Linked DNA regions of Homo sapiens. The protein of the gene in region 4 purifies or fractionates together with the protein of the main gene of each other region. This does not show direct contact. Each region holds a gene or a part of one and is shown on either strand. Other genes may lie near its edges.

Region 1 (2,767 bases), on a different chromosome or scaffold from region 4:
CAGAGCTGGCTGGGCAGTGAAACAGGGCTGGAGGAGACAGGAGGGAAACGGAGGCACCTACGTAGGGGTTTCTCCTCCTACCTCATCATTAGTGTTGCGCCACCTTTGAAACATCAAAATGAGCCTCAAACAAGTAAAGAAGACCCCAGGAAGTTACAAATAACAAACCTACACATTTTTCTAAATAACCAAGGATGTAGTGGGGAGCCAGGGTCCACAGCTGTCCTGACTCCTGAACCCAGCTGGGTCTGGGGCGATTGGAGCCACAGTACGCCGACACACACCTGGTAGACAAGGTCTGCAATGCCAGCCCTGCCCTCAGCCACAAACAGGGCAAGCTATGTACTCACTGTGGGAAGTCAGGGTCGTACAGGGTGGGCTGCAGGATGCCCGCGGGGAACACTACAAGAAGGGGGTGCTCAGTGGGAAACCCATCCACTTTCGGACCCTGCCCCGCCCGGCGTAGGGACACATCCCCTTACCCATCTGGTTCTTGTTGGGTAGATAGTAGGCATTGAGCGCCTGTGGGGGGAGCAGCCACCTGTGGAGGGATGCTGGGGTGAATGGGGGGAACACACTCCCTCCCCCGCTACCCTCACATCACAGCTTCCTCGTCAGCCATCTCCTGACAGTCTGGGGGTCACCCTGCCGGCCCCCACCCCATGCCCTGTGCTGGCGTGTGTGCCCCCCATATCTGCATGGCTGTGAGACGATTTGCCCTACCAGCTCCTGCCCTTTCCCCACAACCCTTCCCTGACCCCCAGCTCTGGGCCAGGCACCCACGTGGACTTGTCCACCTCCTGCCGAATCTTCTTAACTGAGAGCTGGATGCTGAAGCGGATGCTGTTCAAGATGTTCTTGAAGTAGGTCTTCTCATGGACCTCAAACTGCAGGAGGCACGGGCGACACTCAGCGGCAGGCCAGGGCAGGGCTACCTGCAGACTGGGCAACAACCTGGCCGTGCAGGCCACCTGCCCTCCTGAGTGCCGTTAGTAGAGGGGCTGTGGACAGGCTGGGCAGGCAGGGTCAGGGCCCACCTCATACTCCTTGTCCACAGCATCGGGTTTCAGCAGGAAGTCCGGGTAGCCGACCATCACCATCATGTACTGGAGCTGCGGGCCGAGGGCAGGTGAAGGTGGCACCAGGCCTCGGGAGACAGCCCCCCGCCCCCCACCCTACCCACCAAGGAAGGGAGCACTAGGCCAGCCTGGGAGTGGGCTTCACAGTGGGGGAGGCAGGCCTGGTCAACTCCACGAAGGCCTCTTTGTCCCTTTTGTTCTCTTTCGCTGGTACACAGTAGGTGCTCAATATATATGGGACCAACCAATGACACTGGGTCCCCCCTCACCTTGGCCCGAGCAGCAGCCCTGGTCTCGGCGTCCATCCAGTCCAGCTCCTCCAGGCGCTGGCCCAGGATGTACTTGATGTCTTCCACTAGCTGCTGCACCTGCAGGGTCAGGGGTCAGGGAGCAAGGGTCAACCCAGCAGCCTGGTCTATCACTCCTGGCAGGAGGGGTACCCCTGCCTTTAAGCACCACTTTCTAAGCCCAAACCTCATTTCTGAACACCAAGAGGATACTTTGGAGGTGAGGATCCAGGCCCTGCACCCCCGAGGGCTCACAAGATAGAGGAGGAAACTGCCCCAGCAATGACCACAGACATCCCTAAGGCCACGCCTCCCGAGCATGCCTGAGAAGGTGGGCTGGGGCCTGGCAGGGAGGTCTGCCTGCAGTTGATAGTCCACATAAGCTTCCTGGAGGAGGAGGCCTGTGGAGGAGCAGCCTGGGGCCTCAGAATCGGCTGAGTACTTAGCAGGGCCTGGTCCCCCTGCCTGCAGGGGACATGTGGGGCTCCCCATATTAGGACCATGGCCTCGGGAGGGCTCCACCCTCAGTTCAGCACCATCCTCCTCTCTCAAACAAGGGCAACCCACCTTGGCTTTGCTGGCAGCTGAGAAGTGCTCATGTACAAAGAGGGCGCCAAGCGCCATGCCAAAGTGGCGATTGGCCTGGCCCAAGCAGACCCGGGCCAGCTCCTGTGGCTTGTCGCTGCCCTCCATCTCCTGTGCCAGCTCGTGCAGTGCCTCACGGAATGGCGGGGACAGGTGTTCACTCAGGACCACCACCACGCGCCACACCAGGTAGTTGTGCAGGACCCTGGGGACCAGGTGAAGCCAGTGGGTGTCCAGACGGACATGCATGTGGGCCACCAAGGGCACCACCCCTACCTGTGCCCGCCAACCTGTGGCTGGACCCAGGACCCAGACAGCCCCACAAAGAAGGGACAGGGGGTCATCCCAGCTATGCAGAGCAGAAAATGTAAAGCCCACCCAGCAGAGAGGTCCAGGGTGCAGGGGAAGGACCTAGTGACCGCTGGGCAGAAAATGCCAGATCTGCAGCCATACCGGTGGGGTGTGGAGCGGATGAGCTGCGACACCTGCTGCATGTAGTCTGTCGCCAGCAGCACCACCTCCTCTTCCTCTGAGAAGTCCTCCTGGAAGATCTGGTCTAGCAGCCACTTCCACCGCAACTGTGAGACCAAGGACAGGGACAGTGAGGCTAGGGTTGGCAGGGGCCACAGAAGACAGGGAGGGGGCAGAGAGAGGCAGCGAGGGGACATGAGAGTCCATGGCCAAGGAACGGTTTGCCCATCTCTGGGGAGAGATGACCCTGTAGTCCCAGCAGCAGCATTGCCCTCAACCCTGCCTGCCCACGAGGACTGGGCCACACTCACGTGGGGGGTGATCTTCTGCAGCTGCCCCAGCGTC
Region 2 (2,848 bases), on a different chromosome or scaffold from region 4:
ATCTCAAAAAAAATATATATATATATATTATATATATATATATACACACACACACACACACACACACACACGTATATGTATATATATGTATATACATGAAAAAAGAAAAAAATGTCTGAGGTCCTGGCCTCCATGGGAGCAGGTGGCCAAATCCAGGACCAGCAAACAGCTCTCTCTGCCTTCACCCCCTCCCTCGGCCCAGCGCCATTCACAGATCCCACCCACCTGGAACTTGAGGTGCTGGCCAGGCGCGGTCACCAGGGTGGAGCAGCTCAGCCACAGCATCACCAGCACGGAGAGGAAGAGGCAGCAGGCCAGGATCCAGCGAGGCAGACCCGAGCGCCTGCCCCGCCCGGCAGGCACCACTCAGCTGCCCAGGCCGGGACCAGGGAGACCCGTACCTCCAGTCCCACCCCCCTCCCACCCCCAAGGTCCTGCCACCCACCGGGACATGCAACTGAGGAAGTCATTGTCCTGTGGCTCTTCAGACTCCACCTTGGCCTTGCTGCTGGTCTTGACTCGGATCTTGGCCTTCCTCACCTTGTCCAGGGGGCCTACAGGGTCTGAGAGATCAGCTGCCACTCAGCGACCACCAGGTCTTTGCTAAGAGGCCACAATAACCATGACCAGGAGGGAGGAGGTCAGGACCTGGGGCATAGAGTCCTGGAATGGAGATCAGAGCCCTGGGAGATGGACCACAGAATGCTGAGACAGGGACCATGGAACCCTGGGAGATGGATCCTAGGAGATGAACCATGCAACCCTGGGGGTGAACTGCAGAATCCTAGGAGATGAACCATGGAACCCTGAGAGATAGACCAAAGAACTCTAGGAGATGGACCCTAGGAGATGACCCTAGAAGATGAACCCATGGAACCCTGGGAGATGGATCCTAGGAGATGACCCTTAGGAGATGAACCCATGGAACCCTGGGAGATGGAACATGGAACCCTGGGAGATGGAACATGGAACCCTGGGAAATGGACCATGGAACCCTGGGAGATGGACTGCAGAACCCTGGGGGATGGGCCACAGAACCCTGGGAGATGAACTGCAGAATCCTAAGAGATGAACCATGGAACCCTGAGAGATGGACCAAAGAACCCTTGGAGATGGACCCTAGGAGATGACCCTAGGAGATGAACCCATGGAACTCTGAGAGATGAACCATGGAACCCTGGGAGATGGGCCACAGAACCCAGGGAGATGGGCCACAGAACCCTGGAAAGTGAACCATGGATCCCTGGGAGGTGGACCACAGAACGCTGGGAGGCGGAACACGGAACCCTGGGAGGTGGCCACGGAACCCGGGAGGTGGGCCACGGAACCCTGAGAGGTGGACCACGGATCCCTGGTAAATAGACCATGGAACCCGGGGAGATGGACCACGGAACCCTGGGAAGTAGACCACGGAACCCTGAGAAGTGGACCATGGAACCCTGGGAGGTGGACCATGGAACCCTGGGAAATAGACCATGGAGACCTGGGGGATGAGCCATGGAACCCAGGACTTGAGAGATGGAGATCCCGATCCTAGAAGGTCTGTTTGCCAGGCCGACTCCTTGTGGCAGTGGGGCCACCCATGGAAGGAACACTGGTCTAGGTTGCACCTTACCCACGTGCACCTCCAGGGCTTCAGGGTGGGAGCCTCGCCAGGTCACCTCCACGCGCTGCAGACGGCCCCCCTGGAAGCCGAGGCTCTCCACTATGGGCTGAGTCTGGGCCAGGAACAAGACAGCACAGAGAGGCTTGTGAGAACAGCACCCCTGGGCCCAGGCAGGCCCTCTGTGACTGCCATGTCCCACGCCCAGCTGATACCCAGTTCCCCTGGGTATCAGGGGTGGGCTTGATGTCAGGGATGTTGTTTTCTGCTTTCATGGGCTCCTCCATTTGCCTTAACCCCATCCTTTAGCTCCAGAAGTAGGAACATGATCCAGACCAAGCCAGTGAATTGCCTGAGAGATGGTCATATGATCCAGCCAGGGCCAATCAGAGTAAATCCCAGCTCAGTTAAAACCCCAGAGGGAGCCGGGGCAGTGGCTCATGCCTGTAATCCCAGCACTTTGGGAGGCCGAGGCAGGTGAAACACCTGAGGTCAGGAGTTCGAGACCAGCCTGGCCAACATGGCGAAACCCCGTCTCCACTAAAAATACAAAAATTAGGTGGGTGTGGTGGTGGCCGCCTGTAATCCCAGCTACTCAGGAGGCTGAAGCAGGAGAATCACTTGAACCTGGGAGGTGGAGGTTGCAGTGAGCTAAGATCATGCCATTGCACTCCATCTTGGGCAACAAGAATGGGAGTCCATCTCAAAACAACAACAACAACAACAAAAAAAAACCACAGCGTTTGTAACCTAGAGCCTCTGGCATCCACCTTACTGCCAAGAAGAAGTAAATGCCTGGGAATGAAGCCACCACAAAAGAAAGCAGAGTCAAGGCATGGAGTGAGACACTGAGCCCCTGGATCCAGCTGTGCCTGAAGCTCGCCCACTGTGGACTTTGCATCTCATGAGCTAAGAGCCAATGCATCCCATCTTCTTACCCTGCCCACCCATCTGCCACTCTGGCGTGGCCCCTGTCAGAGGTCTCACCTGAAACACCACCACTTTCCCATTGTCAGTCTGCAAGTAGTATGTCCAGGTGGAGGAGACAAATCCCTGGGCTGAGTTGACAAGGTCATTGCAGAGGGTGGAAAACAAGTCCAAGAGGGAGAGGGCCCCACTTGGAGCCTCCAGGACCTTTCTCTGGTGAAAAAAGGTCCAAGACACAAAGATGGCACCGAAATAGGGCATTAACCAATGAATGGGAGGGGGCAGGATGTGGTGGCTCACGCCTGTAATCCCAACACT
Region 3 (3,513 bases), about 41 Mb from region 4:
TCCTTGCCCATTCTTCCAGATCTATATTAGTACATTATTCAATTAGCATTTGTATCAGTATGAAAACATACATAACTATGTTTAATCTCATCTATATGACAGGAAAAAAATGGGCATAATAGAAAAGTCTTCTTTCTTCAGGAGGTACATATTTGTTTGGCATTCTTTCCTTTTGAGAAATGTTAAGTCTTTTTGGGGACAGCTCTCCTTTCCTCACATATAACAGAGCTGTCAATCAAGAGGCTCTGCTTCTACCACCAATTAACTCACCCTAGCTAGAAAATCCCCTATCCTTAGACCAGAGATCAACAAACTAACTCTGCTGTTACAGCATAAAAGCAGTCCCAGATAATATCTAAGTAAATGGACATGGTTGTGTTCAAATTAAAATTTATTTTATTTATTTTTTTTGTTTGAGATGGAGTCTCGCTCTGTCACCCAGGCTGGAATGCAGTGACACCAGCTCAGCTCACTGCAAGCTCCACCTCCCGGGTTCACACCATTCTCCTGCCTCAGCCTCCTGGGACTAGAGGTGCCCACCACCACACCTGGCTAATTTTTTGTTATTTTTAGTAGAGACAGGGTTTCACCGTGTCAGCCAGAATGGTCTTGATCTCCTGACCTCATGATCCGCCCACTTTGGCCTCCCAAAGTGCTGGGATTACAGGTGTGAGCCACCATGCCCAGCCTAAAATTTATTTTTAAAAAACAGACAGCAAGCAGAATTTGGCCCACAGGTTGCAGCTGTCAACCCCTGCCCTAAACAAAGTGAGTGGATACATGTGATTCAGGTAGGAACAATCAAGTTCTTTTTACACATATTGTTATTGACACCATGAGATAGAGGGCTTTTTTATTCTGCAATCTGATGGTCTATGTAATATATAATCCTGGAGCTGATAATGGCTCTCTGCCAGCATGGAGAAACTAGCAAAAGGAAAGAGAGACAGATGCTTAACACTCACAATAATATCTACAGGCTTGGATTCAGCCAAACTTGAAGCCCTTGTTTAGAGCCATTAAACCAATAAATACTATTTGTATCACTTAGTTTGAGCTGAGTGTCTTACAACCCAAGGAGTTCTGAGTTATACAATAGCAGAGTATTTAATTATATATCAGACGAATTATATAATAGTAGACCAAAAATCTATTCATTTAACAGCATACTATTCATTAAACATTTCCCAACTTGCTTTATGCAGCCAGCATTAATCAGACACCAAAATCAAGCAAAGATATTACAAGAAAACTCAAGACCAATGTATCTCAAGAACACAGATGCAAAATTCCTTAAGAAAAATTAGCAACATCTAAGACAGATACCATACCACGACAAAGTGGAGTTTAACCCAGGAATATAAGACTAATTTAACATCCAAAAAACAATGTAATTTACCATGTTAACAGAATAAAGGAAAAAAAATCATACAGTCATCTAGAGAAAAATGAAGACAATGCATCTGACAAAATTCAACACTCATTCATGATAAAACTCTCAGTAAACTACAATTACAAGGAGACATCCTCAACCTAATAAACAGCATCTTTAAAAAACCTACAGTTGACACAACATAGTTAATGGCAAAAGACTGGATGCTTAACCCCTAAAGTTGGGAACAAACCTAGTATGTCCATTCTCGCCACTTACTTTGAACAATGTATTAGAACTCCTAGCCACTGCAGTACGACAAGAAAAAAAATATAAAAGGTATAAAAATCAAGAAGGAAAAAGTAAAAGTATCTCTTCACAGAAGACATGACTACGTATAAGAAAAATCACAAGCAATCTACAAAAAAGCTATAAGAATAAATAACTTCAGTAAAATAACAGGATAAAAGTTCAGCAAACTAAAACATGTTTCTATATGCTGAGTTCCGTGGGTACTTCTGGTGAGTCACTGAACCTGAGGATCATCTGGGGGTCCCCTGAACACACATGGTTATCTATCTGAATTATTACGTATTTGAAAAAAGTATTTCAGTACATTGTAATGACATCTGAAAAAAAGCAAGTCAGGCATCTGAAAAAAAATCTATCACTGTCTCTCCCAACACTGTCCGAAGGAAGTGCCTTAAGTAGTCTACATATAAAACAGACTCTAGAGGTGAGGTAAAATCAGAGCACAGCTCTATTTCTACTCCATCAAGGTCAAGGTTTTATAATAATTCATAAGGCTAAGCTTAAAGTATCTGCTATACCTTCCATATCCATTACTAGAATATATCCAAATAGATATTTGATTACTTGAACTAAATTTATCTTACTTTATAATAATTAAACCTTCTGAAATATTGTTGGTACAATTACACTCTGATAAAATATTTTTCTTCACAGGCAGTATAATCACAAACTCCACCCAGAATTTTTAGGAGTTCTAATTAACAAAGTTTAACCCAAATATTCACTAGATTTTTCCCATCTGGTATTCTCTTTACTTTTAAGTAACTACAGAATAACAAATTGAAAGACTTCTGAGGCTAAATAAATTTAAAGAATTTTGAAATCAATTCTTTCCCATTTTTCAATCCATGGAGACTTTTTGGAAGGAATGTGTTCTTAATCTACAGTATAGTTGAGGGATACCATGACATGTTCCTTAAAAAATTGGAGATATAATGCTAGCTCTTTAGAAGCATGTTTATGAGGTGATCTGCATAGTATCTAGCAGAGTCCCTTTGTAACTGAACATTTAAGAAACTGCTTAGACAATAAGTTATATACAGATATATTATTAATAAAACGCTGAATTTCAAAAGATCTCTGAACAAAGAATGAGTGGCACTAACCATCCAAAAGTTGTATCAAAAATATTTTAAGTGTCCAATAATTACATTATAATTAACATTAAAAAAAAAAACAAGAAAGAGTTCTAGTCCTTATTACCAACCTGGAAACTATACTACAACTATGACCCAAGAATAAACAGATCAAAACAGGATACCATAGATTATATATATTTGTTTGTATCCAAATACAAATCCATAAACACTCCATATCACAAAACTCAGCTTATTACCTCTTTAATTTTTTCCCTTTTCTCTCTTATGTCATTATCTTCTGGGTCTCCACCACGTATTCCTACAAGGTTGGGAATAGGGACTGGTGGCAGTGGCTTGTTCTCTTTTATCTTCATTTCTTGGACTACCTTATTTTTCTCTGTCTGAATTTCTGCTCGAATTTCCTCTCTTGACTTTCTTAATTTTTCTTTTGCTTCTTCCAAGGCCTTCTCATGATCAGCTCGAATTTTATTTCTCAGACGTTCTTCCTCTTCCCTGTGAGAAAAGAAGGAAATAAAACGTAACAGTGAGCCTACTTAAGAATGTCAACCTTTAAATATAAAACATAAAGGTTTCTCCATTAAACCCAGGAACTTGTTTTCTACTTTTGCCATTAAAAGGAAAGAATTATCAGTGAGACACATTCAGATCTGGAATGAGAAAGAAAAGGAACCCTGGATGCCTAAGATCAAACTCTGTTTATAATCTCTTTATACAATTTCCAGACTAAGA
Region 4 (4,768 bases):
GTGGGGTAGAGGCTAAGAGTAGGAAAGACACATGCAAAGAACTCACCAGCGTTTCCTGAACCAAAGCGCAAGACCTATCAGAAGAAGTAAAGGCACTATCACCGCCAAGATGATGAAGCCCACGGAACTGTGATGCTCTGTGAATTTGGGGAGACACCAAGGATGTTATAATCCATCCCATTTTACCTCATCCACTCCCTATTTCACTGCATTCCCTGGGCTTCTTTTTTTCATTTGAGTATCCAACTTACCAATCTCCTTTTTTTCTATGTTTTTCTCTCATCCCTGCTCAGAGATGGATTCTTCAGTTAACCCTCAGCATCCTCCTGCATCTACAGGGCCCTCATTTTCAACATTTCCATTTCTTAGATTATCTATTTTTATTCATGTTTGGGCTATAATCCCTAAAATCCTAAAATTTTCAGCTTGCCCTCCCTCTATGCCTGAGGTCCACTTCCTGGCATTTCCAGCCTGGGCCTTAGCTTTTTCTCACCCCAGTAGAGGACGATGTCCTGGCCCTCTAGACTGCTGTGCTTCACCCGACAGGACAGGTCAGCTGCCTCCCCAGCGGCCACCTCCAGGGTTGCGCGGAGATACCATGTCCCATCAGCACTGGGCAAGATGTCCCCTCGCTGAGTGCCCTGCTGCTCCTGCTCACCCCGCATCCACATCACCCACACGGGCTTTGGGTAGAATCCTGAGACATGGCACACAAGCTGCAGATGGCCAGGGCCAGGACTGGGGCCATGGGACAGCCAGGCCTCGGGCTTCACTGCAAAGGACAGAAAAGATATTCAAATACAGACTTGGAGTTTCATATCTCCACAACAGTTTAGAAGTTTAGATAGACACATTGTTCCCATTTCTCTTTTTTTTTTTTTTGAGACAGGGTCTCACTCTGTCACTATGCTGCAATGCAGTGGCATAATTATAAATTATAGCTCACTGTAACCTCAAACTGTTAGGCTCAAGCGATCCTCCTGCCTCAGCCTCTTAAGTAACTGGGACTACAGGTGTGTACCACCATGACTGGCTAACTTATTTTTATTTTTTAGAGACACTGGTCTCACTCTGTTGCTCAGGCTGGTCTGGGACTCCTGCCCTTAAGAAGTCCTCCAGCCTCAGCTTCCCAAAGTACTGGGATTACAGATGTGAGGCACTGCACCCAGCCTTTCCCACTTCTGGGTGGCTCTTCCTTATTCTAAATTGGAAGGAGGTGGTGGAAGGGTATGATTTTCAAATCAAAACTTCTTGGAGGGAGAGTGCAGGACTGACCTTGCCGCTGGAGATGTGCCTTTCCTGCATCAAGAAGACCCAAGATGAAACGTGGGCAGGTGTCACTGAGAAGATTGTGTGTTATGTCATTTTCATGCTGATTCTGATTGAGCACTTTGCAGAAATGCTTGGCCATATTCCCAGCCACTGGATATGGCAACCATGAATTGTTCTGGAAGCTCACAAAGTCTGATCCTTGATAAGCTAACTGCAAGAAGCTTCCTGAGACCTTTCCAGAGTGCAGCTCACAGCCTCCTGTCACCTGTATCTCAAAAGGATCTGGGGTTATGAAATAGAGGAAAGAGGGAGAAAAAAATATAAAATGAAATGAGTAGAAGCAAAGATTATAGAAGCAGAAGGGGGAAGTGTGCAGGGTTTGACATAATGGAATAAAATTTGGTTTGGTCAGGGATTCAGAGAAAGAGGAATTGGTGGGAGCTGTAGGTGGAGGAAAAGATTAATAACATGAGGAAGAGGGCAAACTGGTCAAAGAAGGTGATGTGAATGCTGTGGGTGAGCAAGGACCTGGTGTAAGAGAACTGGGATTATAACAACTTAGGTTGAATTAAATGCAATGGGTTACAATTGAGTATATATAGAGAGACTGCTGAAGAGAATGAATGAGAAAGTGAGAAAGCTGAAGGTATCTGGTTGTAGGGCAGGCAGAAGGGTGGTCCTGGGATACCTGTAAGAAAAGATAATAATGCACAACCCTGCAATCAATGAGAGAGGAGTTCATAAGTAGCAGAAGTGTTTGGAGAATTAAGGTCTGGATGATAGCCCTTGCCCAAAAGTATGCAATTGCAGTTTTATGGTGGAAAGAATAGAATAAGATACAGAAGAGAGTCAGGCTGTTTCCTAAAGGAATAAGAAACATTGAGACAACCCCTCTCTCCCACCTCACCACTCTCCATGGAGAAAACTGAACTCACATTCAAACTGCAATTCATGGGCGTATCTACGAATTCCCTCAAATGACCGAATGGTGCGTATACGGAATAATGTTTCCAGTTCCTTCCACTCCTCATTGCTGAAGTTTCCCCTGGACCAGGGGCACAGGAAAACGATGGTGCTGGAATTGCTGTCCCAGGTATGAGTCTGCAAATCACTCAGCCAACCTGAGACCAGATTTTGTTTCCAGGAATGGTTGTAAAAGGATGCGATCCAGGTGACATGGAAGGAGAGAGGCTCCTTGAGCCCTGCGACAAAAGAACAGATAGAATGGGGAGAAAGACATTGAGAAAGAGGATGGAGAGAGAAAGGTGCCAGAGTGCGGGAACTCAGAATCTGGAGAAAAGGGGATCCATCATGATCTTAGCAGACATTCACTTGCCACACAGTCCCATGCCTTATCAACCACCTTCATAAGAGCTCAGGGACCTGGAGTCATGGATAGTCAGAATGGAACCAGCCTGGCACTCTCACTTTCCAGGTATATGCTAGGGAAACCACACACACACACACACACACACACACACACACACACACACACACACAGAGAGAGAGAGAGAGACCTTCACCCACCACCCAACTGGGCAGTTGTCAGAGTTCTTACCGTCTGCATTGCCATCACCTGGGAGAACAGCTAACAATGGAAGTAGCAAAAACAGCATATCATTTGCAGATGTTATTTCCTTCTCTCAGAAAAATTGGTCTTTGATTTCTGTTCCAAACAAACCTACCCCACGATATCTCTATTCTGACTTCTTTCTGCAGCCAACAGACAAACCTCCCCTGACTGCAACAAAGAAAATCCACTCCTTCAAAAACCCTGAGATGCCTACTCAGTCTCTCATTTCCCTCTGGTTCTGACTCTCCTCTCTGTTCCAGCTTCTCTCCTTGTCACCAACCTCCAACTTATTCACCTTCCCCTAATTCAACTGCTATGGAACAAGTCTGATGTGGCATTGAAAAGCCACTTAACCACTAAGGACATTTTTTTCTCAATCATACAATAAGAGCATAAAGTGAAATGGCTCCCAGTGTGCTGCCCAATGCTCCCATGTCCCTGCTCTTTTTGATCACTCTGTCCTTTTCAATATTTTCCCATGTATTCTCTTCCCCTGTCTCTTCAGCCCCTTACTACATTCACATTTCTGATTTAACATTGATTTATTTGCTTTTTCAGAGTCTCCTACGACTGCCCTGTGCGACAGTACAAACTAACACCTTTTCTCCATTATTCTTAGAGAAGAGCCAGTAACCATCACAAAAAAAAAAAAAAAAAAAAAAAAAAAAAAAAAAAAAAAAACCACAGGAACACTAAAACATATAAAGAAAATTTCCTCTGTTTGATTTTCATTGATATACATTCACTCACCCAACAGTCTCTCTTAGCACCTGCCTGGAGTCAAGCATCTTGGTACACTTAAGAATATGCAGTGGTTGACAACACAATCACTTTACTGAAGGAGCTTTTTCTCTACTTAGGGAGAAAAACACGCCATGAAATATAAATCTTGGTGTACTGAGTTTTATTATACTGTATACACTCTCTGGATAAAAACAAGGCCTGCTTGAAATAATATTTTCTAAAATGGGGGCTCCTAACTAATGTACGCCAGCCCAGAATTTTGACTTCAATGTTTGACTTGGAGTGTTAGTTCCATACAGTTATCATACTGTATCCCCACCTAACAGAGTATCTCACAAGTGGTAGGTGCTTAGTGAATATTTGTCAAATGAATGAATGAATTCAGTCTATGCATCCATTTTTTAATTATGGAGGTGATATTCAACATGAAACTTTTTAAAGATATCATAAAAGTTACTTGTAACCCTATGTAGTGAGATGAGAATCTCATACAGTTTTATTTAGGATAAAAGTACAAGTTACTGGCATGAGATTTACATAAAAGATCCTGCTATAAATGTCCTATTACTTATAAGAAACTAGTCAGAACTTGTGAGCAGTGAAGTTAATGGAGTATTCCAAAGTCTTTATCCCAGGATCCCTTTTTATTAGTCCTATTTGGATGTTTCAGGGTTGTTTTGTTATAAATGAGTCTTTGCCGGACACATTTACATTCCTCTTTTACGCTGCTTGTAACTGTTGAAGGGCTTCTAAATATATGTTTGTGCTTTGTAGATATCATCCATATAAATGTGTCTGGGCTATTTACTATTTTTTGGTTTTCAAAAAAAAAGTATCTGAAGCTAATTTAGGGGGAAAAAATTTTTTTTCTTGAGACAGGGTTTCACTCTGTTACTCAGGCTGGAGTGCAGTGGAATAATCATAGCTCACTGTAACCTCCAACTCCCGGCCTCAAGCAATCCTCCTGTGTCAGCCTCCCAAAGTGCTGGGATTGTTGGCATGAGCCACCAGGCATGGCCTGCAAATAATTTTTTTATTTGTTTTTTGTTTTGTTTTGTTTTGTTTTGTTTTGAGACAGAGTCTCACTCTGTCACCCAGGCTGGAGTTCAGTGGCATGATCTCAGCTCACTGCAACCTCTGCCTCCCAGGTTAAAGCAATTGTCCTGCCTCGGTTTTGCA

What was found. The genes of interacting proteins can lie anywhere in the genome.
Region 1: the proteins of CD1A (region 4) and ECEL1 purify together in Homo sapiens (affinity purification with mass spectrometry; one large-scale study listed by BioGRID and IntAct). This does not show direct contact.
Region 2: the proteins of CD1A (region 4) and TMEM59L purify together in Homo sapiens (affinity purification with mass spectrometry; one large-scale study listed by BioGRID and IntAct). This does not show direct contact.
Region 3: the proteins of CD1A (region 4) and MAN1A2 purify together in Homo sapiens (affinity purification with mass spectrometry; one large-scale study listed by BioGRID and IntAct). This does not show direct contact.

Annotation. Positions count from the first base shown.
Region 1 is NC_000002.12:232,482,068-232,484,834, forward strand, and holds part of ECEL1 (endothelin-converting enzyme-like 1), read right to left. Parts: coding exon 2,734-2,767; intron 2,530-2,733; coding exon 2,405-2,529; intron 2,157-2,404; coding exon 1,934-2,156; intron 1,448-1,933; coding exon 1,349-1,447; intron 1,113-1,348; coding exon 1,038-1,112; intron 888-1,037; coding exon 784-887; intron 542-783; coding exon 483-541; intron 403-482; coding exon 351-402; intron 1-350. UniProt on the Homo sapiens protein: May contribute to the degradation of peptide hormones and be involved in the inactivation of neuronal peptides.
Region 2 is NC_000019.10:18,615,870-18,618,717, reverse strand, and holds part of TMEM59L (transmembrane protein 59-like precursor), read right to left. Parts: intron 2,744-2,848; coding exon 2,591-2,743; intron 1,719-2,590; coding exon 1,616-1,718; intron 564-1,615; coding exon 446-563; intron 344-445; coding exon 226-343; intron 1-225. UniProt on the Homo sapiens protein: Modulates the O-glycosylation and complex N-glycosylation steps occurring during the Golgi maturation of APP. Inhibits APP transport to the cell surface and further shedding.
Region 3 is NC_000001.11:117,401,949-117,405,461, reverse strand, and holds part of MAN1A2 (mannosyl-oligosaccharide 1,2-alpha-mannosidase IB), read right to left. Parts: intron 3,277-3,513; coding exon 3,021-3,276; intron 1-3,020. UniProt on the Homo sapiens protein: Involved in the maturation of Asn-linked oligosaccharides. Progressively trim alpha-1,2-linked mannose residues from Man(9)GlcNAc(2) to produce Man(5)GlcNAc(2).
Region 4 is NC_000001.11:158,252,790-158,257,557, reverse strand, and holds the start of CD1A (T-cell surface glycoprotein CD1a isoform 1 precursor), read right to left. Parts: upstream 3,135-4,768; 5' UTR 2,889-3,134; coding exon 2,831-2,888; intron 2,475-2,830; coding exon 2,208-2,474; intron 1,555-2,207; coding exon 1,276-1,554; intron 773-1,275; coding exon 494-772; intron 138-493; coding exon 47-137; intron 1-46. UniProt on the Homo sapiens protein: Antigen-presenting protein that binds self and non-self lipid and glycolipid antigens and presents them to T-cell receptors on natural killer T-cells.